7 linked regions of the Homo sapiens genome follow. The protein of the gene in region 7 purifies or fractionates together with the protein of the main gene of each other region. This does not show direct contact. Each region holds a gene or a part of one and is shown on either strand. Other genes may lie near its edges.

Evidence for each region.
Region 1: the proteins of HSCB (region 7) and PKN2 purify together in Homo sapiens (affinity purification with mass spectrometry; one large-scale study listed by BioGRID and IntAct). This does not show direct contact.
Region 2: the proteins of HSCB (region 7) and QSOX2 purify together in Homo sapiens (affinity purification with mass spectrometry; one large-scale study listed by BioGRID and IntAct). This does not show direct contact.
Region 3: the proteins of HSCB (region 7) and GRPEL1 purify together in Homo sapiens (affinity purification with mass spectrometry; 2 studies listed by BioGRID and IntAct, with this or other methods). This does not show direct contact.
Region 4: the proteins of HSCB (region 7) and ARG2 purify together in Homo sapiens (affinity purification with mass spectrometry; one large-scale study listed by BioGRID and IntAct). This does not show direct contact.
Region 5: the proteins of HSCB (region 7) and FUCA2 purify together in Homo sapiens (affinity purification with mass spectrometry; one large-scale study listed by BioGRID and IntAct). This does not show direct contact.
Region 6: the proteins of HSCB (region 7) and CPSF3 purify together in Homo sapiens (affinity purification with mass spectrometry; one large-scale study listed by BioGRID and IntAct). This does not show direct contact.

The regions. Positions count from the first base shown.
Region 1 is NC_000001.11:88,690,383-88,694,870, forward strand, and holds part of PKN2 (serine/threonine-protein kinase N2), read left to right. Parts: intron 1-1,341; exon of another isoform or gene 1,342-1,398; intron 1,399-4,488. UniProt on the Homo sapiens protein: PKC-related serine/threonine-protein kinase and Rho/Rac effector protein that participates in specific signal transduction responses in the cell.
Region 2 is NC_000009.12:136,224,751-136,229,238, forward strand, and holds part of QSOX2 (sulfhydryl oxidase 2 precursor), read right to left. Parts: intron 2,125-4,488; coding exon 2,024-2,124; intron 160-2,023; coding exon 111-159; intron 1-110. UniProt on the Homo sapiens protein: Catalyzes the oxidation of sulfhydryl groups in peptide and protein thiols to disulfides with the reduction of oxygen to hydrogen peroxide. May contribute to disulfide bond formation in a variety of secreted proteins.
Region 3 is NC_000004.12:7,061,730-7,065,064, forward strand, and holds part of GRPEL1 (grpE protein homolog 1, mitochondrial precursor), read right to left. Parts: exon of another isoform or gene 3,154-3,335; intron 2,495-3,153; coding exon 2,332-2,494; intron 738-2,331; coding exon 656-737; intron 1-655. UniProt on the Homo sapiens protein: Essential component of the PAM complex, a complex required for the translocation of transit peptide-containing proteins from the inner membrane into the mitochondrial matrix in an ATP-dependent manner.
Region 4 is NC_000014.9:67,622,303-67,626,790, reverse strand, and holds part of ARG2 (arginase-2, mitochondrial precursor), read right to left. Parts: intron 925-4,488; exon of another isoform or gene 1-924. UniProt on the Homo sapiens protein: May play a role in the regulation of extra-urea cycle arginine metabolism and also in down-regulation of nitric oxide synthesis. Extrahepatic arginase functions to regulate L-arginine bioavailability to nitric oxid synthase (NOS).
Region 5 is NC_000006.12:143,497,737-143,502,224, reverse strand, and holds part of FUCA2 (plasma alpha-L-fucosidase precursor), read left to right. Parts: intron 1-102; coding exon 103-293; intron 294-4,488. UniProt on the Homo sapiens protein: Alpha-L-fucosidase is responsible for hydrolyzing the alpha-1,6-linked fucose joined to the reducing-end N-acetylglucosamine of the carbohydrate moieties of glycoproteins.
Region 6 is NC_000002.12:9,440,283-9,444,770, reverse strand, and holds part of CPSF3 (cleavage and polyadenylation specificity factor subunit 3), read right to left. Parts: intron 4,281-4,488; coding exon 4,105-4,280; intron 2,954-4,104; coding exon 2,795-2,953; intron 1,257-2,794; coding exon 1,110-1,256; intron 1-1,109. UniProt on the Homo sapiens protein: Component of the cleavage and polyadenylation specificity factor (CPSF) complex that plays a key role in pre-mRNA 3'-end formation, recognizing the AAUAAA signal sequence and interacting with poly(A) polymerase and other factors to bring about cleavage and poly(A) addition.
Region 7 is NC_000022.11:28,748,539-28,752,038, forward strand, and holds part of HSCB (iron-sulfur cluster co-chaperone protein HscB isoform 1 precursor), read left to right. Parts: intron 1-2,702; coding exon 2,703-2,750; intron 2,751-3,500.

The sequences.
Region 1 (4,488 bases), on a different chromosome or scaffold from region 7:
CATTATTCCCTCATAAAATATACTGTGCTGATAATTGTCAAATGTCTATATTATTTCAAAAGCCAATTTTACTCTACAGTATATGACATTTAATATGATCAACTTTTGATATACAGCAGAGTTCAAACTTGACAGCAAAGTTGAAAACTAGTTAAAAGCTTTAAAAAGATTTAAAATTTAGAGTGGGAAAAATATACTAATGAAAAAGTAATTCCTTAATGAAACAGAAATAGAGAATCTTTATCTTGATGCATGTCTAGCTTGTCTTAATTTTATCTGATGAAATCTTGTTTGAAACTAGCTCTATTATCATACTTGGTTTTTTTTTGCAATCACAAAAATGAAATTTGTGTAACATTATATACATAAATATTGCCTGTAAAAAATGAAGATCAAGAAAGCATGGGACAGTGTACTTGATGACAGTAAACACCTTAAATGTGAAGGTAGTGTTGAAGTGCCTCATAAAGATGAGTGGATATACAAGACTTACATAATATTGTTAGGATTTATCTCTTTTAGAAATTTGTCAGTGACTTATCAAATTGGTGAAAGTTTTACTGCCCTGGCTCATAAGTACCTTAATTTAATGGAATGTAGTTATGACAAAATTTGGAATTTATTTTTGATTATAGAAGACATACCACACAATACATGTGCTGAGAGTTTTTTATTTATTTTATTTTTATTTTTATTTTTGAGACAGGATCTCGTTCTGTCACCCAGCTTGAAGTGCAGTGACGTGATCTCGGCTCACTGCAGCCTCTGCCTCCTGGGCTCAAGTGATTCGCCCATCTCAGCCTCCCAAGTAGCTGGTACTATAGGTGTGAGCCATCATGCATGGTTGATTTTTATATTTTTTTGGAGAGACGGGGTTTTGCCATGTTGCCCGGGTTGGTTTTGAACTGCTGGACTCAAGCAGTCCACCTGCCTTGGCCTCCCAAAGTGCTAGGATTACAGATGTGAGCGTCTGTGCCTGGCCTGAGTATCATATATTTTACACATTAATCATACTGTTTTCCCTTCCCTGTAGTTGCTACCTTAGGGATTCTTTAAGGAGGTGTTTGTTCTCCATTTCAGAATTTTCATTGAACAAATTTTATGCAACTTTTGGATTTTTAAAAAATTTGTTAAACATCAGGCACACTGCATTGGATTAATCACCTATCTGTCTGTCAATCATTTTAATAAGTACTCATGGACCACCACTCCCCCTCTCTCAAAACAAGCTAGGAACTTTAACCTACGTATAGTTTTCCTCTATTCTATCCGTCTATTTCCACCTTCTTGTCATCTAGGTCATCATTTTTGAGTCCTGTGTTCATTCTCTTCCTTATATAGTAGTCCCTCCTTATCCACGGTTTCAGTTACCCATGGTCAACTGTGGTCCAAAAATAGGTGAGTACAGTATAGTACTATAAGATATTTATAAGTACTAAGATACTTTGAGAGAAACCACACTCATAACTGTAATTACAGTATAGTTATAATTGTTCTATTTTATTATTAGTTATTGTTAATTGCTTACTGTGCCTAATTTATAAATTAAACTTTAGCATAAGTATGTATGTTAAAGGAAAAGTGTAAATAGAGTTTAGTACTGTTCGTGGTTTTAGGCATTTACTGAAGGTCTCTCGGTGGATAAAAGGAGACTACTGTGTATAGTTTAGTTGGACATATAAATCTAAACATCTTTTAGTTGTTTGTATAGAATTGTGAATATAATCTTTTTGAACTTGATTTTTCACCTGTTATAAATAAGATTTATCCACATTTTTGCATGTTGCTATAGTCATTATTTAAATTGCTATATAATATTTCATTGAGTAAAATATTCATTAACTCTACTTTGGTGGATATTTGGATATTTATCCACTCTCCCTTGTTGGGCAGTTATTTTCCATTTTTTGTTTTGTTTTGTTTGTAATTATAAGCAAAGATCCTATGGACAGTCTGCATGTTTCCTACTGTGCATGTGCCACAGTTCCTATTATATACCTAGAGGTAGCATTGCTGCCTCACAGGGTAGGTGAATGTTCAACTTAAGAGATGATGCAGAACTTTCAATATGGTTGCACCAATTTATATTCATATTAGCAATATATGAAATAAAAGATCCTTTGGTTATCCATCCTCTCCAACACTTGATATTCTCTTTTTAAGTTTTACAAATCATAAGGGTGTAAAATGTTGCCTTATTGTGGTCTTGATGCGCATTTTCCTGGTTATCACTGATGTAGAACACTTCTTTTTATGTTTGTCGGCCTTTTTACGTGGCTTCTTCAGTGAAATTCCTATTTATGTCTCTTGCCTATTTTTGTTTTTCTTACTAGTTTATAAGAGTTCTTTATATTGCTTATGTTAATCCTCTGTGTACATTGTGAATGTCTTCTTTCAGTTCCTAACTTTTTCGCTTTCTTTTATGGAGTTGTGTGGGAGGGACAGTTTTAAATGCCTCTACCTTCTTTGGCAAATATTTGGAATAATTTACATCGTTATCATCAACAGGCTTGTATTTAATATCTATTGTACATTTGGTATAGAAAGGGTAAAGTTATATTAATAGTTTATGGCCTGGGGATTTGTAAACTATCCAAATGAACAGCCATAGGAAGTTGTATAAAATATTGTATTGCTTCACACATGCTAGGCACCCAAATGCTAGGTTGATTTAGTTAATGAGTAAATTCAGAAGCAAAGAAATAGCAAAAATTATACATACACTTCATCAGTTGCTTATTTTCCAATTCCATACCTCTCTGTTGCAAACTACTTATTATTAGTCATTAATAATATTTTATTCTTTTGTTTAAAGGGCAGTATATTCCGTAAGATTATGTGAGTCAGTTATTTAGGTATTTTCATAGCTTGCCATTAAAATGCTGGAGTTGATCAGATTTAATACTGGATATAAAGCAAAATATTAATCTTCTGAACAGTTTACTAGTTCAGAAGTTTACAAACTCGGAATCCTAAATACAGTTTTTGTCATTGCTGTGCATCTTTTGATAAAAAAAATTCTTAAGTCAAATTTGTCCATTGTTTATCATACAGTAAGTCCTCACTTAATGTCATTGACGGGTTCTTGGAAACTGACTTTAAGCAAAATAACTTATAATGAAACCAGTTTCTTTTTTCTCATCAGTGTTCTAAGGAAATGATATTATAAACAATGAAACATTAGCCAGAAGTGGTGATGCACACCTGTAGTCCCAGCTACTTTGGAGGTGGAGGTGAGAGAATGACTTGAGCCCAAGAGTTAAGGCTGCAGTGAGCTGGAATCGTGTCATTGCACTCTAACCTGGGCAGCATAGTGAGACCCTGTCTCAAAAAAAGAAAGAAAAGAAATGATATTGAGCGAAACAGCATTATTAAAGGACCTGAAGCACATTGTTTTTCTTAAAGTCTCAGTTCCAAGAACCTATCAGCAGTGTTAAGTGAGGACTTACTGTAATTGCTTTTCATGCCCTTTTAAATAAATTATTCCCTATCCTGGGTTTAAAAGATAGCTACCCAAGTTTGCTCCTAAGAATCTTGCAGTTTTATTTTTTAGATTTAAGTCAGTTTATCTGGATTTGTTGTTTTTTAATAGACTTCATATTTTAAAGCAGTTTTAGGTCCACAGCAAAATCGAGAGGAAGGTCTAGAGATTTCTCAAATAACTGCGTCCCTACATATGTACATATGCATTATCGACATCCTCCACAAGAGTACATTTGTTGCAGTTGATGAACCTATATTGACACATCATCATCATCCAGAGCCCAGAGTGCACACATCTTGGTGTTGTGCATTCTATGGGTTTGTACAAATGTATAATGACATGTATCCAGCATTATAGTATACAGAATAGTGTCCCTGCACTAAGCTTATTCTCTGTGTTCTACCTATTCATCCTTCCCTCTCCTCCATCCCCTGGCAACCACTGATCTTTTTACAGTTTCCATAGTTGTGCGTTTGGGAAAATCTCATGCGGTTGGAATCATACAGTGTGTAGCCATTTTACATGGGTTTCTTTCACTTAGAAATAAGCATTTAATTTTCCTCCATGTCTTTTCATAGCTTGATAGCTTATTTCTTTTTAGTACTGAATAATATCCCATTGTCTGTATGTACCTTAGTTTATTCATTCACCTACTGAAGGACATCTTGGTTGCTTCTGTTTTGGCAGTTATGAATAAAATGCTATAGACATCCTATGCAAGTTTTTGTGTGGATGCAACTTTTCAACTCCTTTGGTTAAATACCAGGGTGTCCAATTGTATGGTAAGAATATATTTAGATTTGTAAGAAACTCCCAAACTGCCCTCCAGAGTGCCCGAACTATTTTGTATTCCTACCAACAATAAGAGTTTTTGTTGTTCCACACCATCTCCAGTATTTGGTGTTGTCAGTTTTCTGGATTTTGGTCATTCTAATAAGTGTATCATGGTATCTCATTTCTGTTTATTTAATAGCATTGATTTTTGAATATGGAGATAGGTCTGA
Region 2 (4,488 bases), on a different chromosome or scaffold from region 7:
GGGAAAGGTGCTGACCCAGGCTGGGAGCTCCCCAGGCTCTGGGACCGTGTGTCTTTAGCAGGTTTATGAGGGGAATCTCAGGGACTAAAATACAATGCTTATGTCCTTACCTTTAAAATTTTCTCCAGTTGTAAACTCCTTTGTAAATGCTTTAAAATACTAAGAGGAAAAACACAGAACAAGTAAGAGGCAGCCTTCCATGGGCATCTGCATGTGTTTAAGCAACAAAACGCCCGTCACCTTAGAGGGAGCTTTACTCAATTTCCTTCGGAAAGTTTTCATAAATTAATGACAAACCACACGCTTCTCCTTGTCTTTGTGCATATTAATGTTTCCTGTCAGATTTACGAGGGGGCTAAGGTTAGCTCCAATCAGCATTCCCATCATTTACATTTTCTGACCCAACAGGGCTAGAAGCAAGACAGTTCAACTGGGCTGGAATCATAAAAGACACCGCTCTCTGGGACTTGGTAGTGAGCCTATGTCTTAATGGTTAGCTGTAGCGTTAGCTGTGACAACACGGAGGATGTGCAGGAGGAGGAGACACCACGCAGTATCTCTGAGTGGATGATTAGGTTCTTATGTTAACATTAAAAACTTTCTTCATCAAAGGGTACGTTAGAGACAGCGACGAGACAAGGTTACATGATGGCGGAGATGAGGTCGGTAAGAAAAGCACTGGCCAGCTAAGAGGGAAACGTGCAGATGACAGGAAGACACTTCACCCATGACACCCACGGCCCACAAAGCCAGATGTGCTGGCACTGCAGCCGCCAGGGAAATGCAAACGAAGCCGCCAGTGCTTCCTGCTGCACTGGTCCCTGGGCGAGCACAAAACTGCCTGACACTGCTGGCCCTGCAGGTCTGTTGTGCACAGACCCGGTTCGCGGCCCAGTGGCTTCTCTCCCAGCCTCAGCTCTCCCCTTGCCCGGGAAGGCGCACAGCAGCGCCGTTCAAAGCCACCAAAGCCTGGAAGAGCCCACACACCTGGCAACGGGGGGCTCTGGTTCTCAGAGTGACGTCACTGGACAATCCCATCCAATGAGCATCGTAGTGGATCTGGGCAATGTCCCATTAAGTAACAGAAAGAGGGCCCGAAAGTTTACATACAGCACAGTGTGAACTGTGTCTGAAGCAAAATCAAAATACAACAGGAAGCCATGCTGACGTAATCACACGCAGAGGCAGGCAAGCAAGTGTGCGACACAGGCCCCGAGAGGCCCTGGGGCAGGGCTGACACCGGTGCCGCCCAGCGTGGCACCTGTTAGGGCAGGACCACAGGTGCTGCCAGCACAGTGAAAACAACAGCCCCCAAAATACAAGCGAAGCCACCATGACATGACACCACACCACACAGCAAGGCACCAGGGCTGACAAGGACGGAGTTTTACTCAAATTGACAAAGCTTCCCAGGAAGTGGGCCCAAGGCGCCCACGTTTCTGGAGATGTCCATGTCAAGGCACGCAGGAGGCAGTGGCACCCGCAGGTACACACATGCTATGCACGGGCCTGCAACAGGGTCACAGGTACCTCCGCCCCCTAGTGGGAGCAATGGGCACAGCCTTGTCTGCAGGGCTGACTTTGGCTGGGGAAGGCAGAGGCCCTGTGCCTGTGTGTGCGTGTGTGTGTGCATGAGTGTGCATGTGTGAGAGCCCCATGGTACACGGACCACACGCGTGGCTTCAGGCTGGGGTGCCAGCCCTCGCAGTCCTGGTCTCCTTGCGCCCCCTGGCCGTGCAGGCTGCAGGGGGTCTTTTCACGCATCCCCTCCATGTGACCGGGTCTGTGTGAGCGTGGACAGTCCCACAGACACTTCCACAGCACAACAGGGTGGAACAAGAGCTGCCCCCACCAAACATCAGCTCCTACAATTCCTACGAAGTTCCAAGGAGAGAGCCAGAGAAGCCGAAAACACAGGCACTATGATGTGGCGAATTTCAACAGACAAGCAGCCGCGTGATGCTCACCTGGAAGGTGGGGTAGAAGGTGAATTTCAACGGACAAGCAGCCGCGTGATACTCACCCGGAAGGTGGGGTAGAAGTGGATGTCGTAGTCATGGCACACGGCCTGGTTCTTCTCTTCCATGCAGTCCAGAGCTGCGACGCGAATGGCACTGGCCCAGTCTGAAAAGCAGGAGCATGACCTTCAGTGTGGTGAGCACTGGACTCCCGGGAAGCCCAGGACCCAGCAGTCCCCACTCCAGGCTGCGGCCACCTGCGAGACCAGCCCACCTGCCCCCTCTAGGTCATCAGTTAGGCCCTCATCACACAGAGCGTCTATGTGGAGCTAGGAGAGAGAACTCCACCAACAGCACGATGCCTCTCCTACCACAGATAGTCACAGAACAAGCGGATTTGTGCTGAACCTGCACATCACGGAGCAGGGACAAGGCTGTGGGCCCCTAATTAAATGACACCCTGATGGATGAAAGCGCTGGTAACAGACGCGGCTGTCAGCGGCCGGCACTTAAGTCAGGACAGCAAGCAAGTACGTGCAGATTAATCAGATACGGTCCAGGCTGTTTGGCAAAAACATTCCCGTGTTCTCACTCCAGCGAGTACTGGCAGCATCTGAGCAGGGTCTTTCAAGGCAAGGATGCGTGCACAGACACATGTGAAGTGGTTTCCAACACCATCCCAGACACTGCCCGCAAACCCTGGAACACCTATGCCATTTTGGGGAGGCTAAAAGGAACCATAAATTTTTTTGTTCCTATCTCTAAAGTTTTTGCTATGGAAAATTTCTAACATGCAAATAAAATAGAGATAAAAATGTAACAAATCCCACACATTCTACCTCTTGGATCAATAATTATCAGCTCAAGGTGAATCCTGTTTTGCCAAAGTCTCCACCCACTTTCAGAACTGTCCCACAACAAATCTCAGCACGTCATTTCTACACAAAACCCACCAGGCTTTGCCTCTGAAAGATGAAGGCTCTCCACTGGGCATGGTGGCTCATGCCTGGAATCCCAGCACTTTGGGAGGCCGAGGTGGGCAGATCGTTTAAGCCCAGGAGTTTGAGACCAGCCTGGGCAACATGGTAAAACCCTGTCTCTAAAAAAAAAATACAAAAAATTAGCTGGGCGTTGGTGGCGCACACCTGCGGTCCCAGCTACTGGAGAGGCTGAGGTGGGAGGACCGCTTGAGCCCGGAAGGCACAGGCTGCAGTGAGCCGGCGACAGGGGGAGGCTCCACCTTAAGAAAAAAAAAAAGTCCCTATTTGTTCGTTTAAAGTTTGTTTGAATCAAGATCCCAGCGAGGCTTGTTGGTTACTGCTGGTGGGTCCTGGCACTTTCCTTCTCTGGGTTTGACTGACAACATCCCGGACTCCTGGCATTTCTGTAACAGGGCACTCAGATCTAGATTCTTGTCTGATTTGTTTGGTGACATTACTTTGTAGGTAGTGGAACATGCTTCCACCCAGAGGCAAGCGACGCCTCTCTCCTTAGTGATCACGACCTAAATGCATTAATGCACCAGGGCTGCAGTGAAATGGTGACGTGTCATCTCTCACCGTTTGCTCATGATGAGCTGGGACAATTCTGTAAAGAGAGACCTGCCCTCACTGCAACCCAGCGGAATGACTCACATGAGGAAGGGGAGTGCCTGGCTCGTGCTTCAGTCACCAGTATCAAAGTCATGGTTTCCGAAGCTGACCAGTGAGGTTTTCTTTTTAAAAGATTTGTGTTCTTCCTCTGGGATGTAAAAATTGCACTGCCAACAATTCACAAATATTTCCTGGCTCCTCACTCTGTAGGGGTCCTTCCAGGCCCTGAGACTTTGAGGGGACAGCCTAAAGGGGCACCACTGGGTCAAGGGATGGGTGCTGGCTATCCTGGAGCCTGGAGGCCTCAGCAGAGTCGGCAGTGTGGCAGGGCACGCCGCACCGTGGGAGAGGCAGGTGCAGAGGCGAGACCCAGGCACCCAGCAAATGGACCTGCCTGGAGGAATGGAGCCAGCCACGTGGGGTGCTGCCCTGGCACAGCCTTGTGACCGGAAGCCCAGTGATTTCTGAACGGGAGGGAACGTTATGTCTGCCTGTCACTGAGATACTGATGAGGCTCTTTTTTGCCTTGTATTCCGATTCTGCCCACTTGTCTAAATCAATGATTCCACTATAAATCATGTAAAAAGAGTAAGAGTCTTTTCTGAGAGCGAGCTATGATCTCAAACTCCAGAGGTTCTGTTAAAAGCATGCCTGGAAGAGACGGAACATATCACCAGACTCTGTACAAATATGAAGGCTTGTGTGTGTTAGCGGTTCAGATTGCTATTTTTCTACATAATATACCACAGCTCTGTTTCAGATACTGGCCTTTTCTCCCTGTAATTTAAAAATAAAAAAGAAAGAAACCTCTTTCAGAAACAATGACCAAATACCGTTCCCGCTTACGCTGGCTAAGTGAAACCAATTCAGGTTTTGAGGCCACTTTCAGTGGATGAGGGAGAAGCGACACGAGCTCTCTGCATCCCCGGCCACTCCTT
Region 3 (3,335 bases), on a different chromosome or scaffold from region 7:
CCAGGAAAAAAAGTGTTTCAATGAGCGCCTCAGTCTCTGTGAATGCGACAGAGACTCTAGCTCTTAGTTTCCATGTGGCCTCTCACCGTCTGACCCAGGCAAGGCCATTTACCCTCCCTCGAGCCTTAGGTTCCACATCTCTAATACCCACTGTCAGTCACGCAGAGATCCAGAGCCAGCACTCAAACAACCAGCCTGTGGAGCTGGGAGCCTGGGGTTACGTACCAGCTTTGTGATGTGTGGCAGGTGACTAAACCTCAATGATCTCAACTGTAAAATGGGAAGGACAGTAACAAAAACATCCAAAGGTGGCAATGCATATAGCATGCTGGGAGTTCTGAAGTGATGCCAGTGTTACTTCCGGAGGGCTAAGGGGATGGGCATCAGAGGCTGACCTGCTGCAGGTTCCCACCAAGGTCTCTGCGTGGGGGAGGACACACCTATTTACAATTCTTCATGCTAGTCTCAGCTACTTGATTTCTGCTCCTCCAGACACCTTTGCTGTTGAGCCATCATAAAAAAAAATGCAGGGGATGCAACAGCTGGACCCCCCACCCCACAGCCTTGCTCTCTGACACTTCCGTATGCATGGCCTTCCCCTTCCCCACCCCATTATCTTCTTTCCGGAATCAACACCATGTTATGTTGAAAGTACCGTATAATTTTGCCTCCTCCACCAATTTCTGGCTCCTCTGCCGTAAGTTCTCAGTGTCTGCCAAAGCTCGTTTATATTTTTCCTAAAAGAGAAAAAAAGGGATATTTATATATATATATATATATATATATCTTTTTTTTTGAGACGGAATCTTGCTCTGTATGTCGCTCAGGCTGGAGTGCAGTGGCATGATCTCAGCTCACTGCAAGCTCCGCCTCCTGGGTTCACGCCATTCTCCTGCCTCAGCCTCCCGAGTAGCTGGGACTACAGGCGCCTGCCACCACGCCCAGCTAATTTTTTTGTATTTTTAGTAGAGATAGGGTTTCACCGTGTTAGCCAGGATGGTCTCCATCTCCTGACCTTGTGATCCGACCGCCTCGGCCTCCCAAAGTGCTGGGATTACAGGTGTGGGCCACCATGCCTGGCCGGGAGATTTATATTAATATGGAACAAAGTCATAGGAAAGCGAGCTTGATTGGAAAACGGCTGTGTAACTAACTACAAGTCAAAACAGAAGTAATATCACTGCCTTTGAGATGTGACTAAGGAGGGCAGCTTAATGAAAGCTTAATAAAAGCTGCACTCATGATCTTTTGCTATGCTGTGTTACCCAGAGGTGGCTCAGTTCAAACATTCCTTGTGTAATCATCATCTGAGTTCTAGTATATTCCTCATGTCTCACCACCTTCCGGTAAGCTCACTCATCTGAGCCTTTTTTTTTTTTTTCTGAGACAGGGTCTTGCTCTATCATCCAGGTTGAAGTGGTGTAATCTCGGCTCACTGCAGCCTCAACCTCCTGGGCTCAAGCAATTCTCCCACCTCAGCCTCCTGGGTTGCTGGGACTACAGGAGTGCACCACCACGCCCAGCTAATTTTTAATTTTTTTTAGAGATGGAGTCTCACTATGTTGCCCAGGCTGGTCTTGAACACCTGGGCTCAAGCAATCCTCTTGCCTCAACCTTCCAAAGTGCTATCAGAGGGGTAAGCCACTGCGCCCAGCTAGCTTTTCTCTTTTTAACATTTACTAAGTTGCTCTGTGGGGGCCTCTATACTGCATCCATTTTCAGTCTTCAGGTAATCACTGTACAGTGGCAAGGAGCAAGAGCTCCAAGTCCAGGGGGTTCTAGTTCGAGCCCTGGCTCCGCACCTGGCAGCCAGGATTAACATATGTAACGGGTTTGGAATGGTGCCAGCACTCAGGGTTTGATGTCTTTCTCAAATCCTTAAAGAACTTGATTTGTGCCACCTATGTGTTTTCACATGGAGTAATAATCCATGTTACTAGTTCATAAAACTCCTACCTGCCTATGAGAGCATCACATAAAACCACACTCCTGCTCCCAACTCTTGTACTTGCAATTTTCTGCTTCCTCTCCTAAGTCCCAGCCTAAACAACCATACTGAGCATTCCTCATTTGTAAAGATGATTTTAAGTTTTCATTCAATGACAAATAACAGCGTGTAAAGATTAGTCTCTTGCCAGAACCAGAGTTGCACAGGATTTGGGTTTTAGTCTTTGCTTTGGCAGTAACTTGCCACCTGGGCCCACTGCAGGCCATGGACAACGGCTTAACTCTGGCTTTAGTCTGTCACCAATGAAACCTGGAACCTTTATGTGGCCCAGGAGAGAAACAGTTCAGCCGAGCCCGCCCCCACAGGAGCCTCACAGTCCTCACCACAGTCTCCTTCAGCTGTTCCTCCAACTTGACCTTCTCTTCCAGGAGGGTCTTCTCTGTAGCAGGAGGATCTGCCTTCTGTTCACTCTGACCCATGTCCTCTTCCAGGTTCTGGCCACTGTTCTTTTGTTTCGTGGCTGTGCACAACAACCGGGGAGATGGCCTACAGGGAAGTCCACACGTGAGAAACGAAGACTTAGTTTTTGTGCTTATTAAAGTCAGATGTATGACTTTAGAAACTTAAAATAGCTTCAAACTATTTACTATTACTTGGGGAGAAAACATTTCTGTTAGATCTAATAAAGGCACACTGTACGTGACATATAGAAGCTATATTAGTAAATATAAAAGCTGTAAGTCATATACAATGTGCCTTTATTAGATCTAAGATAAACATATATATATTTTTTTAGAGACAGGATTGGTCTCTCTCTATATATCTATCTATCTATACATCTATCTATATCTATATGTATTTCTTTTTTTTTGAGAGAGAGAGTCTTGCTCTGTCACCCAAACTGAAGTGCAGTGCAACCTCCGTCTCGTGGGTTCAAGGGATACTCCCACCTCAACCTCCCCAGTTGCTCGTCACCACACCCGGCTAATTTTTGTATTTTTAGTAGCGATGGGGTTTCACTATGTTGGCCAGGCTAGTCTTGATATCCTGACCTTAAGTGATCTGCCCGCGTTGGCCTCCCAAAGTGCTAGGATTACAGGCGTGAGCCACCGCGCCTGGCCTCTCCATGTATTTTTAGAGACAGGGTTTCGCTGTCACCCAAGCTACAGTATGGTGGCACAATCATAACTCACTGTAACCCCGAACTCCTGGGCTCAAGTGTTCCTCCCACCTCAGCCTCCCAGAGTGCTGGGATTACAGGCATGAGCCACTGTGCCTGTCTTTTTTATAAGATCTTCTGTAAGTACATGCCTAAACTTACATGTCAATGTGCCAAGTTACAGTACTTGGTACAGAACAGTACTAACCTCCTCTTTCCATTCTAAGG
Region 4 (4,488 bases), on a different chromosome or scaffold from region 7:
GCTATGAATATTTGTATATAAGTTTGTGTGTGGCCAGGTGCAATGGCTCATGCCTATAATCCTAGCACTTTGGGAGGCTGAGGCAGGTGGATCACTTGAGGCTAGGAGTTCGAGACCAACCTGGCCAACATGGCAAAATTAAAAATACAAAAGTTAGCTGGGCATGGTGGTGCTTGCCTGTGGTCCCAGGTACTCAGAAGGCTGAGGCCGAGATTGCACCACTGCACTCCAGCCTGGGTGAAAGAGCGAGACTGTCTAAAAAAAAAAGTTTGTGTGAATATATGTTTTGAATTCTGTTAGGTATATACATAGGAATGGATTTGCTTGAGGACACAGTAACTATACATTTAACTTTGAGGATCTGCCAAACTGTTTTCCAAAGTGGCTGCAGTTTTACATTCACACCAGTAGTGTATGACAGGTCGAATCTTTTTACACCCTCACCAATACTTGGTATTGTCTATCTTTTTTATCATAGCCATCCTAGTGGGTGTGAAATGGTATTTCATTGTAGTTTTGTGGTTTTTTTTTTCCCCTGAGACAGAGTCTCACTCTGTTGCCCAGGCTGGAGTGCAGTGGTACAATCTCTGCTCACTGCAACCTCCACCTCCTAGGTTCAAGTGATTCTCCCACCTCAGCCTCCTGAGTAGCTGGGACTACAGGAGTGTGCCACCACATCCGGCTAATTTTTGTATTTTTTAGTAGAGACGGAGTTTCACCATGTTGATCAGGCTGGTTTGAACTCCTGACCTGAAATGATCTGCCCGCCTCAGCCTCCCAAAGTACTGGGATTACAGGTGTAAGCCGCCACACCCGGCCATTGTAGTTTTAAATTTGCATTTCCGTAATGACTAATGTGTTTACTGCCCATTTGTATAACTTCTTTGGAGAAGTGGCTAATTAAATCTATTGCTAATTTTTAAATTTGGTTGTCTTTTTACGGTTGTTATTTTATTTATGTTTGCCGAACACTAGAATCTTATCAGGTATATGATTTGCAAATATTTTGCCAATTCTATGGGCAGTCTTTTTACCTTTTCTCTTTTTTTTTTTTGGTTTTTCATTACATTGATGAAGTCTTTCCAGTTTCTTTTTTTTTTTTTTTTTTTTGAGATGGAGTTTTGCTCTCGTTGCCCAGGCTGGACTGCAATGGCACAATCTCGGCTCATCACAACCTCCGCCTCCCAGGTTCAAGCAATTCTCCTGCCTCAGCCTCCCGAGTAGTTGGGATTACAGGCATGCACCACCATGCCCGGCTAATTTTTTTTTGTATTTTTAGTAGAGATGGGGTTTCTCCATGTTGAGGCTGGTCTCGAACTCCTGACCTCAGGTGATCCGCCTGCCTCAGCCTCCCAAAGTGCTGGGATTACAGGCGTGAGCCACCGTGCCTGGCCCCCACTTTCTTAATAGTGCTCTTTGAAACATAGATGTATTTAATTTAGCTAAGTCAAGTTTAATTTTTGTCACTTATGATTTTGATGGGATAGCTAAGAAACCAATACCTAACCCAAGGTCGCAAAAATCCAGTCCTATGTTCTCTAACAGTTATATGGTTTCAGCATTACATTTAGGACTTTGGTCCATTTTGAGTTAATTTTCATATATGGTGTGAGATAGGGATTTTTTTTTTTTTAATGTGGATATCCAGTTATCCCAGCACCATTTACTGAAGACTATTCTTTCCTTACTGACTTGTGTTGGTCAAATAAAGACAGCCTTGTGAATGGACAATTTTAGGAAACCATCAGACCAGTCAAATGACAATTTTCTGGGGATGGTCTATGAGGAGTATCACCTCTGTTCTCCCTTTTGCAGTAACTGCCAGCCTCCTGGTTTCACTGTGATTGCAGGCTATCGGTTGTCCAGGCTACAGCTGATCTGGGAAAAGGCAGCATGGGAACAGGGCAAGTTAAAATGCCACAATTCTTAATGTTCTTACTGAGATTCAATGTTTTTCTTGAATAAATGCTCCCCAGATTGCTGCAAGCCTTTGGTTAATTTCCAGAGTTCTGAAAAAGCTGATTCTGATCATTTTTGCCAATGTTCTTGATATGGTTTGGCTCTGTGTTCCCATCCAAATCTCATGTTGAATTTTAATCCCCAATGTTGGAGGTCTGGCCTGGTGGGAGGTGATTGGATCATGGGGGTTGTTCCTAATGGTTCAGCACCATCTCCCTAGTGCTGTCTCATGATAGAGTTCTCATGAGATCCGGTTAAAAGTGTGTATCACCTCCCTCTTCGCTGTCTTCCTCCTGCTCCTGCCATATAAGACGTGCTTGCTTCCCCTTCACCTTCCGCCATGATTATAATTCTCCTGGGGCCTCCCCAGAAGCAGAAGCCTGTATGTCCTGCAGAACCATGAGTCAATTAAACCTCTTTTCTTTTTAAATTACCCAGTCTCAGGTATGTCTTTACAAAAGTACAAGAACAGACTAATACAGTTCTCATTCCTTTTTTGGAGGTCCTATGCCACCATTTTCAATGGTGTCACTATACAGTATTTTAAAACAACACAGATTTCCCATTAAAGTGCAAATTTCTGGCTTTTCTTGAAAAACTGGAGAAAAGAGTACAAGGCCCACTCCTTCTCACATGGTAACAGGTGGCTAGAATTCACAAATTACCATGGTTCTCAGAGCTAACCAAAATCGAGTGCAGATATACTGCTCCTCAGCCTTGCCAGAGCAATGCCTTTTCATTTCTCTTAGGCCCTCTTAAGCCCAGGAGTTCGGGACCAGCCTGGGCAACATAGTGAGACCCCGGCTCTACAAAAGAAAAAAAAATTATCCAGGCATACTGGCATGTGTCTGTAGTCCCAGCTACTCAAGAGGCTAAAGTGGGAGGATCGCTTGAGTCCAGGAGGTTGAGATTGCAGTAGGCTGTGACTATGCCACTGCACTCCAGCCTGAGTGACAGAGTGAGACCCTCTCTCAAAGAAAAATAAAAGGTGGCTGGGAGCAGTGGCTCACTCTTGTAATCCCAGCACTTTGGGAGGCCTAGATGGGCAGATCACCTGAGGTCAGGAGTTCGAGATCAGCCTGGCCAACATGGTGAAACCCCATCTCTACTAAAAATACAAAAATTAGTCAGGCGCAGTGGCAGGCACCTGTAATCCCAGCTACTTTGGAGGTTGAGGCAGGAGAATTGCTTGAACCCGGGAGGCGGAGGTTGCAGTGAGCCAAGATCGCATCACTGTACTCCAGCCTGGTGACAGAGCGAGACTCCGTCTCAAAAAAAAAAAAAAAAAAAAAAAAAAGGTTACCTGAGAGTACTGTTGAGTGTCCTTACTAAGCCCAAGGAAATAAAACAAGCCCAGACACTAAGTCAAATACATTCATTCGAGAGAAAACAGGAAATTTAACTCATGCTATGGTAACACCGGCAGCCTGTGACATCAGAGCAAAGGCAAGGAACAAAGGGATTGTGAAAGTTACCTTTCCATGAGTCTCTCCTTTGAAATTTGATCCATGCTGTTTATTTGAAAGTGTTCAAAACACTCAAGTTATTTTGGTACTGTTTAGGAACAGAGCAACTGAAATGTCTCTTGGTACTTTTCTCCAATATATTCCAGGAGATTAGCCAAAACCACATGCTAGAAATCTGCTGAGAGCCACAGTTTTATTTAATAGGCTATGAGATTCTATTTCAGACTGCTGGTGATACTGAGCTACCAGTCAGCTACACAGTAAGGATATAATTGTACAATTAAATATATTTGAGAAAAAAAGTCAAAGGGAAGGCCATATAAACTGAAGCCTCACCATCACTTTAGGTTGGAGTTTAAAGAGGGAGTAATATTTACAGGAGAATGGCTTCCCCTGGGTTGGAGTGGAAAAATACCAAGAGCTGTGACAGGAAAGGAAGTCTACAAAGCATGAGTAAGAGAAGCTGCTACAAATGTGCCCTTCCCCCTCATTCAGCAGCCTCAGCTGATTGTTATAGAGGTCTCCTCCAGAAGAGGCTGAAACCGCTTCTTGTCAGGAATCTCTTAAGGCAGAACCTACAGACGGTAGAGCAATTTGAGCAATGCTTGGCCGAGTTCAGATGGACTGCAGAGATGTCTCCAGGATTTAAAAACAGTGATAACCAGAGATTGTCGTCTTCAGTGTAAAATGATTCTTTTAAAAAGGCAGTGTGTACAAGCTATTTTAAGAGACAGTATGCTCATTTATGGGCGGGAATAAAAACTTCCTCCCATTAGTTAACTTGCCACACATTAAAAGAAGACTAAATCTTAGCAGTTTGTCTTTAATCTTCAGTGGTGAACTTGGAGAGTTATTAAAATGACTAAGAGAGGCCTTAGTAAAGAAGAAACTGCAATTATTTAATAAACAAGGTTCGAATATTGAATCCATGTCACCATATCCATATGTAGGTGGAGGTATATGAAGGACACCTCAACTCAAGGCTGTTTCAGTGACTTCATTATTCCTCTGGCTTTTGGAAGGAGATGACTTCACTTGGAATGGACTTATGACCAGCAGAGAA
Region 5 (4,488 bases), on a different chromosome or scaffold from region 7:
CAGTGACTATATATACATGTATAAATATATAAATGCAACATATTAGCACATTAAAGATGGAATTATTTTATTTATCTAAAAACATTATTCTTAATTTTTTAGCAACTTGTAGAGACAGTTTCATGTGGAGGAAATCTTTTGATGAATATTGGGCCCACACTAGATGGCACCATTTCTGTAGTTTTTGAGGAGCGACTGAGGCAAATGGGGTCCTGGCTAAAAGTCAATGGAGAAGCTATTTATGAAACCCATACCTGGCGATCCCAGAATGACACTGTCACCCCAGATGTGTGGTAAGTCATTCTTGTTACCAAGTACTCTTTTATAAAGGAAGAGATTTAAAATTTATCAGACATATAAAGAAGAGTAGGATAAAAAGAGAAATTGGATGAATTCCTACATATACAAAGCACTTTCCAAACTTTGCTTACTCTAATATAAAGAGAAGGGGAAGAATTTGCATGTTTTGAAACATTTATTGTTTATCAGATTGAGCTTACATCATTTCTAGGTATCTCCCAGTAGTGGACAAATTTTGGCTGAAAGTACTCAGCTCTTAGAAAAATTGTAAGCTGTTCAGACCAATGAAAAATGCTGAATGGTTAGTCTAAAACGGAGATTACTGTTTAACCAGTTCGGTAAATTCTGACTTTTGCAGATGTTGCATCCCATGAAATTAGCAAACAAGAGGTACCCAATGGCAGAGAAAATGTTAGATTAAAAATGAATCAAAATAGGGAGGGTTCAGGGAAGATGCTTCTCTCTGAGCTTGAGGAGGTTCTGTGTGTCAATGAGTACCCGAATCAGACTCCACAAATATGACAGTTTCTGATATGGTTTCTTAACATATATAAAATAAGATGAGTATTGGTGAAGTTCTAAAAATTCGCTTTCAGTTGCCACCTGAGTACTGTCTGATCAAATAGGAACCGAAAGATTAGACTAATTGTTCTTCAATCTACTTGACTTATGACTTAAAACATTAACAACCCATTGAATAAAATGGAGTAAGGCAATCTGGACAGAGCAAATAATTGTGGAATTTTAAAATGTTGATCTGGGAGAAGCCATAATGAGAACTCAATACCAATCTCTCATGTGACAGAGAATAGTAGAAATCTGGTTTTGGAATTTGCTTCTTACTTTTGAATACTTACATTTGAATATGAGGGTATCTGATCTGGGACTTCACAATCATTAACCATTATTCTATTGTGTTTATTTCAAGAAATAAACATAAAAGCTAAATATTTAATGTGGCTTATAAAACTGTGAGTCTGGCTCCTACCAACTTCCCTGCCACTGAGTGGTCCTGCTCTCCCTCCTCACCATAGGAGCCTTCTTCCCCCAGGGTTCATCATGCCCACCTTCTTGCAGTCACCTACAGACTCCCAGGTCAACCCTTAAAATCCTTTGAGAGAGCCCTGGCTTGCTGTCCCTGTCCCCAGAACTACTCTTCACATAATTCTTAGAGATTTAAATTTTTATTCACAGTTCTAATTACCTGCACCTCCTGTCTTCTAGGGGTCTTGTCCGCTTGACCTTTGTTACCTGTTCCTTTGCATTATCAATATACAAGGTCATATTGGTAATGCAAAGTCGAACTTCTTACTCAACACTTCCACTTGGATGCATAGCATCTTAGACCTGTACGTCCACAACTGAAGCCCTGAGTTTTAAATTTTTGCTGTAGACTAGCTCCACCCACGGTCTTCTCCATCTCAGTTAATGGCAGCTTTATCCTTTAGGTGGTTGTCAGGCCAAAAACCTTGGTGTCCTTAACTTCCCTTTCTTTTATAAACATACTTTAGACTTTGCATTACCAATAACTGAACCCCTTCCACGGCTCCAGTTTGAAGGATTCTGCCATCTACCTACCACTTCTTATATTTTGGCTCACTCTGCATGGCACTTCGGCTTCCAAAGGGATCTATAATCCAGTGATCATACTATCTTTTAATCCTATCATCTTTTCTCTGTCTTTTTCCTTATCCGGGACAGATTCTGTGGCCCATCACTGTAACTAATCTATTGCATACACCCAACTCCTGAACCCTTGCTCCCTCTGCCATACTCACTTGACGGAACATCAACTTTAAATACAGATCTACTTATTCCATGCCTGCTTCTGGACAGCTAACTGTTAACTATGGAAACACACACACACACACACGCACCCAGACACATACAATGTAAAATTATCTCACTTTTGGCTTTAAGGTCAACCCTTGTGTCCTGATCCCATTGCAAATCATCCACCCAAGGATTGTTATAGCAATTCTCCCCTTTAACTCAATTTCACTTGCATTTCTAGTGATCTTCCCATTTCTCTCCTTTCCTTTGTAGTAAAACGTCTTGAAAGGATTGTTTTCACTTGCTATCTCTAATTCCTTGCTACAGTTTTTCTCTTGAACCCCCTCTGGTCGAGCTTCCACCCCCACACTCCAGAATTGCTCTTCTCAAGGCCCACAATAACATCTGCCTTGCCAGTTCCAGTGATGAGTCCCCAGTGCTCATTTTCTTAACTTACTGGCAGTGTCTGCCTCAGTTTATCACTGTCTCTCCTGGTGTTTGTCGTACCTTTTGGCTCTTCCTTCTTAGTTAGTTCCTTTGCTGATTTCATCTCATTTTTCCAACCTCTAAATCTTGAAGTGCCCTGAGGTTTAGTCTTTGGACTTCCATTCTTCTCTATCTTTTTTTGAGTGCACTGGTGCGATCTTGGCTCACGGCAACCTCCACCTCCCAGGTTCAAGTGATTCTCCTGCCTCAGCCTCCTGAGTAGCTGGGATTACAGGTGTCCGCCACCAAGCCTGGCTAATTTTTTTGTATTTTTAGTAGAGATGGGGTTTCACCATGTTTGGCCAGGCTGGTCTCGAACTCCTGACCTCAGGTGACCCGCTTGCCTTGGCCTCCCAAAGTGCTGGGATTACAGGCGTGAGCCACTGCGTTTATCTTAATGTCCCAGGTGATCTTATCCATTTTCATGGCTTTAAATGCCATATTGATGATCTCCACATTTCTATTTCCAGTGCAGACCTCTTTCCGAACTCCAGCCTCAATAACTTCCTACTCAGCATTTCCACTTAGATGCATAGCATCTTAGACCTGTACATCCAAAACTGAAATCCTGAGTTTTAAAATTTTGCTATCAACTAGCTCCACCCATGGTCTTTCCCATCTCAGTTAACGGCAGCTTCATCCTTTAGGTGGTTGTCAAGCCCAAAACCTTGAAGCCCTTAGTTTCCCCTTCTTTTATAGTCACAGCCAACCCATTAGCAGATATCATCCTCTGCATCTTTGAAATATATTCAGAATCTGTCCACTTCTTATCCTCTCTGTGGCAACCCTCATCCTTTTAGTTTCCATTGTCTCGCCCCTGCCTGGATTATTTCAGTAGCTTCTTAATAGGTCTCTATTTCTACCCTTTAACCTATTCACCACAAAGCAATCAGAGTATACTTTTAAATAATAATGCCACTCCCATGGTCACATTTCTCCAATGGCTTCCAGTCTCAGAGAGAAGGCCAGGTCCCATAGATGCTTACAAGGGCCTATAAAATCTGGCTCCTATCGCCTCTCTGATCTTATCTGCCATCACCCTCCCCCACTTCCTCTCCTTCAGGCACTCTGCCTTGCTAGTGCATCAACAGGCAGAGCACACTCTTGCACTGGGGCTCCTGCACTTGTCATTCTGTCTGGAAGGTTTTCCCCAGACGCTCCCGTGGTGCTCTTATGGCGCTCCCATGGTTCTCTTCCATGCCACCTCTAAGAAGTCTTCCCTGACTATTCTGTTTAAAATAACACTCCCAGGCCCCTCCTTTCCTACCTAGCATGCCCTGTCCTTCTAACCTGGCTTGTTTTCTCCATAGCATTTAATCAACACCTGACATATTTGTTGATTCTAATTTCTTCCACTAGAATGTAAGCCCCATGAGGACAAGGACTTTGTTCAATGTTGTATATAGCTCTAAAACAGTGTCTAGCATTTTAAGATTTCAATAAGTATTTCTTGAGTAATTGAATGAATAAATGAATGAAATCCACTTTTTTTTTTGTCCACAGCATACTTCCCTTACCTTCTTCTTTGCTCCCATTCATCCTTTAAGTCTCAGATTAAATGTTATGTTCCTGGAGAGGCTTCTTTCTGATGTTCTAATCTAAAGAGATCCTTTTGTTATAATCTCTCAATTTCCTTTTCTTTCATGGTGCTTATCAGAACTCACACTTTCATATTATTTGTGTGATTGTTTAGTGTCTGCTTTCCCCACTCTAGTCTAAGCTCCATAAGAACAAGGACTATGTGTGTTTTGTTTTTTATTGTAACTCTAACACTGAGCACAGTACTAGGCACAGAATTGACACATGCATATCTTGTCTTGTTGAATGAATGAATGAATATAAAAATTTGAATAATACATGAAAAGCCATGAAGCTCTTGCATCCTGTCCCCTTAGATCATCTCCCTCCCCTTTTCAGCTCCATGAGAGC
Region 6 (4,488 bases), on a different chromosome or scaffold from region 7:
TTGCTTTAACCCAGGAGGCAGAAGCTGCAGTGAGCTGAGATTGGCGCCACTGCACTCCAGCCTAGGCAACAGAGCAAGACTTCATCCAAACAAACAAACAAACAAACAAACCAAAAAACACCCCAAACAACAAGCAAACAAACAAAACTAACAAAAGGCCATTTCTCCTGCTTTCCAATACATTTGGAAAGGGCACGTCATCTATTTTCTATGGACACATGCTTCATTAGTGTTCTTCTAATTAAAAATACACACTTTTTTCAGCTTACCCCTCCTTTCCAATTCCATCAAAATATCTAACTTATTTTTAATAAGTTACACGATACTTAAAAATATAAGTAAGTCGGCCGGGTGCAGTGGCTCGCGCCTGTAATCCCAGCACTTTGGGAGGCCGAGGCGGGTGTATCATGAAGTCAGGAGTTCAAGACCAGCCCGGCCAAGACGGTGAAACCCCATCTCTACTAAAAATACAAAAATTAGCCGGGTGTGGTGGTGGGCACCTGTAATCCCAGTTACTCAGGAGGCTGAAGCAGAGAGCTGCTTGAACCCGGGAGGCGGAGTTGCAGTCAGCCTGGGTGACAGAGCAAGACTCCGCCTCAAAAAAAAAAAAAATATATATATATATATATAATATATATATTAAGCATTTACTATGTGCCAGGCACCATATTAAGTGCTTTAGATATGTTCTTTCACTTCATCCTTACAATAACCTTATGAGCTATTATTCCTATTTACAAATGAGGTACAGAGAGGTTAAGTAACTTGCCAAGGGTTACATAGTAAGTAAGAGATGGAGCTGGCATTCCAAATGAGCAGTCATACTCCAAGCCTGGCTCTTAAATTATTGGAGAGGCAGCAGAAAATAACAGAAAAACATTAGGATTGGGGTTGGTAGGTCTGAGTCAGTCAGTTCTGGAGAAAGGGGGCAGCTTGCTGAAATCAAAGGGGAGTTGTAAAGGCCAAATCCGAGTGCATGTGAAAGGCTCTGCTCAGGGGGTGTCGCATTAGTAGGTGATGATGCCTGCTTTGTGAACTGCCTGCTGCACAGTTTCCTGGGTATGCACTTTTTTTCCCTTTAATACAATAAATGAAATTCATAGACTAACCACATGAGGCGGTTTCAAAGCACGAATAAATTCACTGGTTTGCTGGTAATCCGTGTGAGCTGAGAAAGAAATGTAATCAACAGACATTTTCAGTGGTAACTTCTGTCCAGACATAGTAGTGATTTCTTCAGGTTCAGACATGATGTGCTGTGGAAAATAAAGAAAAATAACAAAACAAACTACCCAGTTATAATCGTAAAGGTACATTTTCATTTTTTTCATGCAGTCATAAATTCATGTTAAATTTAGGACCTTACGCACAAAATCATTCTAATATAACTGACTCAGTAAATATCAAATACTCATGTTCTCAATCAAGCAAACATTTAATGAGAAAAGTAAACAAATTAACTAAAACTCATCTATCTGGAGTGCTGGCAGTGAGAATCATAACTCTTATGCTTAGAAAGACAAACCTGTATTCCCAACTATTCTTGTGCTCTCCAAAGTCATTTCCTAGATATGTGGATATATTTCTATTCTGAAAATCTTTGTTTTTTCAAATAGGGTCTCACTTTGTCACCCAGGCTGAAATGCAGTGTGCGATCTCAGCTCACTGCAGCCTCGACCTCCTGGGTTCAAGCAAGCCTCCTGCCTCAGTCCCCCAACTAGCTAGGACTACAGGCACGTGCCACCACACCTGGCTAATTTTTGTATTTTTTGTAGAGATGGGATTTCTCCATGTTGCCCAAGCTGGTCCCCAACTCCTGAGCTCAAGTGATCCACCTGCTGTGGCCTCCTGAAGTGCTAGGATTACAGATGTGAGGCACTGTGCCAGGCCTGGAAATTTTTTTTTTCTTTTTTTTTTGGAGATGGAGTCTTGCTCCGTCACCCAGATTGGAGTGCAGTGGCGCCAATCTCGGCTGACTGCAACCTCCGCCTCCAGTTTCAAGCAATTCTCCCTGCCTCAGCCTCCCGAGTAGCTGGGATTACAGGCATACGCCACCACGCCCAGCTAATTTTTTGTATTTTTAGTAGAGACGGGGTTTCGCCATGTTGGCCAGGCTGGTCTCGAACTCCTGACCTCAGGTGATCCGCCCGCCTTGGCCTCCCAAAGTACTGGGATTACAGGTGTGAGCCACTGCACCCAGCCTGGAAATCTATTTTAAATACAACATTGTCACTAAAGAACTTTATAGAATAAGGTAAAGTAATAAAGATTATCAAAGAATCATATCATATTTTTAAAAATAAAATAGAGGATGAGAATGTGATGCCTGGATGCTCAGAAACTGCCTCCCAAGTTCTGCATATATTTTCTACAATTTCTACATCCCTAAGAGCTGAAAATCAATGTTTCATAATAGTAGAAAGTGGTCAACCCAAACACATTCTACAGCTTTTTAAGATCATATGTATTAGTCAACCTCTTCTTCATGAGAGGACGGAGAGTATTCACGTGTTTGTCTCAAACAGGTTCCTGTCCATTCTTCTCTACTTGCAACCAGATGAGCATTTCTCAAACTTTAATGTGTATATCAATCACCTGGGACCTCATTATGCCATTCAGTGTCTGCATAATTCTACATCCTACGCACATCTCTAGCTACCTATTCCCGTCCTCATTTTTAAAAATCAAAACTTGTATTATTTGAAGAACTACTTCAGTGCAAAAACCTGTGAGGACCGTGCCACCTCCGTGATTCTGAATAGGAATAACACAACAGCCTATGACTGTAACTGACCTTGGCAAGTGTCCCTTCTACACAGTATCCCGCTATAATGACACCATTCCTCTTATCAGTACACCAGCTTTCAAATAATTCTCTGGATAAGCCACTTTGCATCATGCCTGGGGAGGCCATTACAACACTGGGACCAATGTCATCAAAATGATCCATGCTCTAAGAGAGAAAACAGAATGGGAAAAGTATGTTAGCTACCAGCAGCTGACAAAGCATTCTTTCTTTTTAAAGAATAACAAAAGGCTAAGAGATTAATCACATCACTGAAAGAGCCTTCACAAGATCTGTAAACATTTTAAGTTCAGTTGCCAAATTCCTAAACAGTTTAGGCTAGGAATGGTAGAAAAACCAAGTAATAAAAAGCGGTAAGTTCACCCCGATCTTCAAAACCTTCTGTTGGTAGCTAGAGGGCCATCAGAACCATCAGGACCATCTTCAGCGCCTAGCAGGCAGGCAGAAAAGTAAAAGGAAGAGTCAAATGGGTCTTGATCTACCCAAGACACAACTCTGAAAAAATATTCCCAAAGACTCACAATAGCTTTGCATGCTCCATGCATGTTTTGAGCTGGCCTGGAAATCAAAAGGTTTAACATTGTTCTAGGGAGAACTTGTCTACAATCCTTAAGCAGTTAACTTAAAATAAATACTTTATGAACAAAGCCTATTTACAACTGGAAGTCCACTTTTAAATTATTTCGGATATCAATTATTTTATTATGATTCAAGCATCGAGTTAAACAGTATTTTTTAAATTAAATAAAATCAGATTTTATTGAATGCTTCCAGAAAAGTATATAAAAATTTTCATATATAGAATTTGCAGCACTAATCAAAAAGATGATTTGGTTTGAGTGAGAAGAGAAACTTAAATACATAATACAAAATATTTTTCTCCTCAGAACTTTTTATGCCTACGGCAAAAGAGATGAGTATTATAAATACTGAGAACACATGGCTACTTGGGGCAAGTGGCAAAATCTGTTGAAGCAGAAAAAGAATGTCAGCTGCTGAAGTTTTGATTTTCTGCAGAAAAACGACACCTGTTGAGAAGCGGTAAGACTCCAGCAAGAGGAATTCAGCCAGAGTCACTGACAAGCACTGCCTACGATTTTTATTTTATTTTGATAGAGACAGGGTCTCACTATCTTGCCCAGGCCGGTCTCAAACTCCTGAGTTCTAGTGATCCTCCTGCCTTAGACTCCCAAAGTGCTAAATTACAGCTGTGAGCCATCACTCACGGCCTCGTACCTCCTACTACTAATGACTGATTTGGTTTTATCCATCCTTGTCTTTCTTCCACAAGCACTCACCTTGAGGTTACTAATGTGTTTGAAAACAAAGGGATTATTGATGTTGATCTGTTTGCGGATTTTGTCATTCATGGCATTTACATATGTCTGGTACACTGCCATACACTTCTTGGCCAAAGATGATGCATAGTATATTGGAATGTCATGTAGTTCTGGGTGATTCTGCCAGTACTCATCTAGAGAGATTTTGCAAGAAACAAACATCACTTTGTTAGATGGGGTAAACAGTTCAAATAACAAATGATACACACAGAACAAGAAATGATACACATACAACCAAGAAATAAAGCACACAACTATATTTTAAAGAGTTTAAGCAAAATTATCCTGGTTGTAACTAACTTAAATTTACAAAACCAAAACTTATTTCTAAATAGTGCATGA
Region 7 (3,500 bases):
GTCTTGCTCTGTTGCCCAGGCTGGAGTGCACTGGCATGATCTCGGCTCACTGCAACCTCCGCCTCCCAGGTTCCAGCTATTCTCCTGCCTCTGCCTCCCAAGTAGCTGGGACTACAGGTGCGTGCCACCATGCTTGGCTAATTTTTCTATTTTTTTTAAGTAGTGACGGGGTTTTACCATGTTGCCCAGGCTGGTCTCAAACTCCTGACCTCAGGTGATCCATCCATCTCAGCCTCCCAAAGTGCTGGGATTACAGGTGTGAGCCACCAAGCCCGGCCAAAACCCAAATCTAATCACTACTCTTGGCCTTATTTCAATTGACCAGGTGTGATGGCTTACGCCTGTAATCCAAGCACTTTGGGAGGCTGAAGTGGAAGGATCACTTGAGCCCAGGAGTTCAAGACTAGCCTAGTCAACATAGCAAGACCCCCATCTCCATTAAAAATTTAAAAATTAACCAGATGTGGTGGCGCATGCCTGTAGTCCCTGCTACTCGAGAGGCTGAAGCAGAAGGATCACTTGAGCCCAGGAGGTGGAGACTGCAGTGAACCGTGTTTGCACCATTGCACTCCAGTTTCAGCAACAGAGCGAAAACACGTCTCAAAGAAAAAAAAAAAAAACTTTTAAGTGGCTTCTCACTGCTCTAAAACTCTTTAGCATCCCTTACAGGGCCCGGATGCCGTGGCCTCTGCTTCTCTCTGTTTTGCCTTCTCCACTCCAGCCACAATGACCACTTCCAGTTCCTCATCTATACTGGGCACCCTCCTACCCTAGGGCCTGTTGCTTCTGCCTGAAACCCTCCTCTCCTCCGCCCCATTTAAGTTAACCCCTCCTTCTTCAGATCTGAAGGCAATCATCACTTCCTCAGAGAAGCCTTTTTAAGCTATCTATTAGTAGTGGCTATTTCTTTTGTAGGACTAATCACAGTTATAACTTTACTGTTCTATGTGACATTAATTGATCAATATCAGCCTCCCTCATTAGACTGGAAGTTCTGCAGGAGAAATCATGTCTACTTTTTGCTTCCCTCACATCCTCAGCTCACAGAAAAGTACTTATAGTTTAAAAGGAACTTGGTATTTACTAAATGAGCAAACAGTAATGAGAAAAGATGTTTAAAGCAGTAATATAGAATTTGTGGTGAGGGGACCGTCAGCTTGGAGATATGTTCACAGCATTAGGACTGGGTTGTAGGGATAAGAGAAACTCAGGAGTTGCAGTCAGTGGGCTCAGCTGCCCAATTTTAGACGTCAGGGCAGCATGAAGATCTGGAGTGAGGGCAGCGTGCTACTGACTTTGCGTGACCTTGAACAAATGACTTCATTCCTCTGAGCCTCAATTTCCTCATCTGTACGTGGAGATAATATTAGTACTGGTGGTTGTGGGGATCAAGTTAAATGAGATAAAGCACGTAAAAGCATGTATTCTAGGCCAGGTTTGGTGTCTTATGCCTATAATCCCATTACTTTGGGAGGCTGAGATGGGCAGATTACCTGAGGTCAGGAGTTCAAGACCACCCTGACCAACATGGCAAAACCCTGTCTCTACTAAAAATACAAAATTAGCCGGGCATGGTGGCACACACCTATAATCCCAGCAACTTCAGAGGCTGAGGCAGGAGAATTGCTTGAACTCAGGAGGTGGAGGTTGCAGTGAGCCGAGATCGCACCATTGCACTACAGCCTGGGCAACAAGAGCGAAACTGTCTCAAAAAAAAAAAAAAAAAAAAAAAAAAAAACACTTATTCTAGCCCTATAGTAAACATTTGACTTTGAGCAGCTCACTGACCTTAATTTAGATTAATTCCTAAATTTTCTCCTGTAAGGTATCTGCTATGGCCCAGGTAAAATTAATGTTCAAGGGCATAGAGCTAGTTAATTTTAGGGTCAGGGCTTAAGAACCTCCAGGTTCCTAGTCTGTTGTTCTTTTGTGGACACCACACTGCTACCTGAGAGATGAGTTTCAAACACCGGACTGGGAGTCAAGTGACTTGGATTCTGTTCCCAGCTCTTCCACTCATCACCCATGGGACAATTCCCCCAATACCTGTCATTTCCTGCCTTACGGATATAATGTATTTGACAGTGCTTCGAAAGACGACACCATATAAATAACTGACACTATTTATATCTGGAAAATGAGATTACTGGAAAATTCCTCATTTTCTAACAAGGAAACGAGAAATATGAGATAGCTGCTGCTTTATTTTGTTTGGCATCTTCTCCCTTATGACACAACATGATGTAAATGTTTTCATTTTCCTGAGAGGCTATACAGTTTGCAAGTGGTTGCCGGAAACACTCAGTAATGCTTTACTGATAGGTGTTCCCAGCATGTTAATGTTCTCCTTGCTGAAATGTCGAAGACCCAAACTGTTTCGTGGAGATAATCAAAGTATATCTTTGTCTTTTTTTTTTTTTTTTTTTTTTTTACTGATTCTATAGCCATTTTATAAGCCTTGGTGATTGCTCCTTAGACCTTTCATGGTTGGAAAAACAGTGTTATTAGGGTAAACCAGAGTTGTGCTAAACAGCAGCTGCCATCATGGTACACACAGAGACAAAGGTTATGAAGCCTTACCCTTGAATACAAACTTCCTCCTTTGTTGTGTTCAAACCAGCATGATTACAAAGTTTAAGTATTGTCTTCATATTATGAGTCTATTTCAATGGAAAAATTAACAGAATGGTTTTCTTTTTCAGCTAAACAGAAAGAATTTACTGACAATGTGAGCAGTGCTTTTGAACAAGGTACTTTCTTTTCTTCACTTTCTTAAATATGGAAAGAAATTTCAAGCACTGAAGCATAGCCATTCATTCAATAACTAGCTATTATATACCTTCCTATGATAGCTATATAGGGAGATATGAAATACTTATGAGTCTACATTTCTGTCTTTAAAAAAATGCCTTTAAGAATCTACATTTCTGGCCAGGCACGGTGGCTAATGCCTGTAATCCCAACACTGGGAGGCTAAGGCGGGCGGATCACGAAGTCAGGAGATTGAGACCATCCTGGCTAACACGGTGAAACTCTGTCTCTACTAAAAATACAAAATTAACTGGGTGTGGTGGCACAACGCCTGTAGTCCCAGCTACTTGGGAGGCTGAGGCAGGAGAATCGCTTGAACCAGGGAGGCGGAAGTTGGAGTGAGCTGAGATCGTGCCACTGCACGCCAGCCTGAGTGACAGAGCGAGACTCCATCTCAAAAAAAAAAAAAAAATCAACATTTCTGCCTTTCTAGAGAAACAAACTATATCAAAAAAGTGATCTGGGAACAGTGACTCACGCCTGTTATCCCAACACTTTGGGAGGGTGAGGTGGGCAGATCACTTGAGGTTAGGGGTTTGAGACCAGCCTGGCCAACATGGTGAAACTCCAGCTCTACTAAAAATACAAAAATTAACTGAGTGTGGTGGCATGTGCCTACAGTCCCAGCTACTCAAGAGGCTGAGGCCAGGAGAATTGCTTGAACCAGGGAGGCTGAGGTTGCAGTGAGC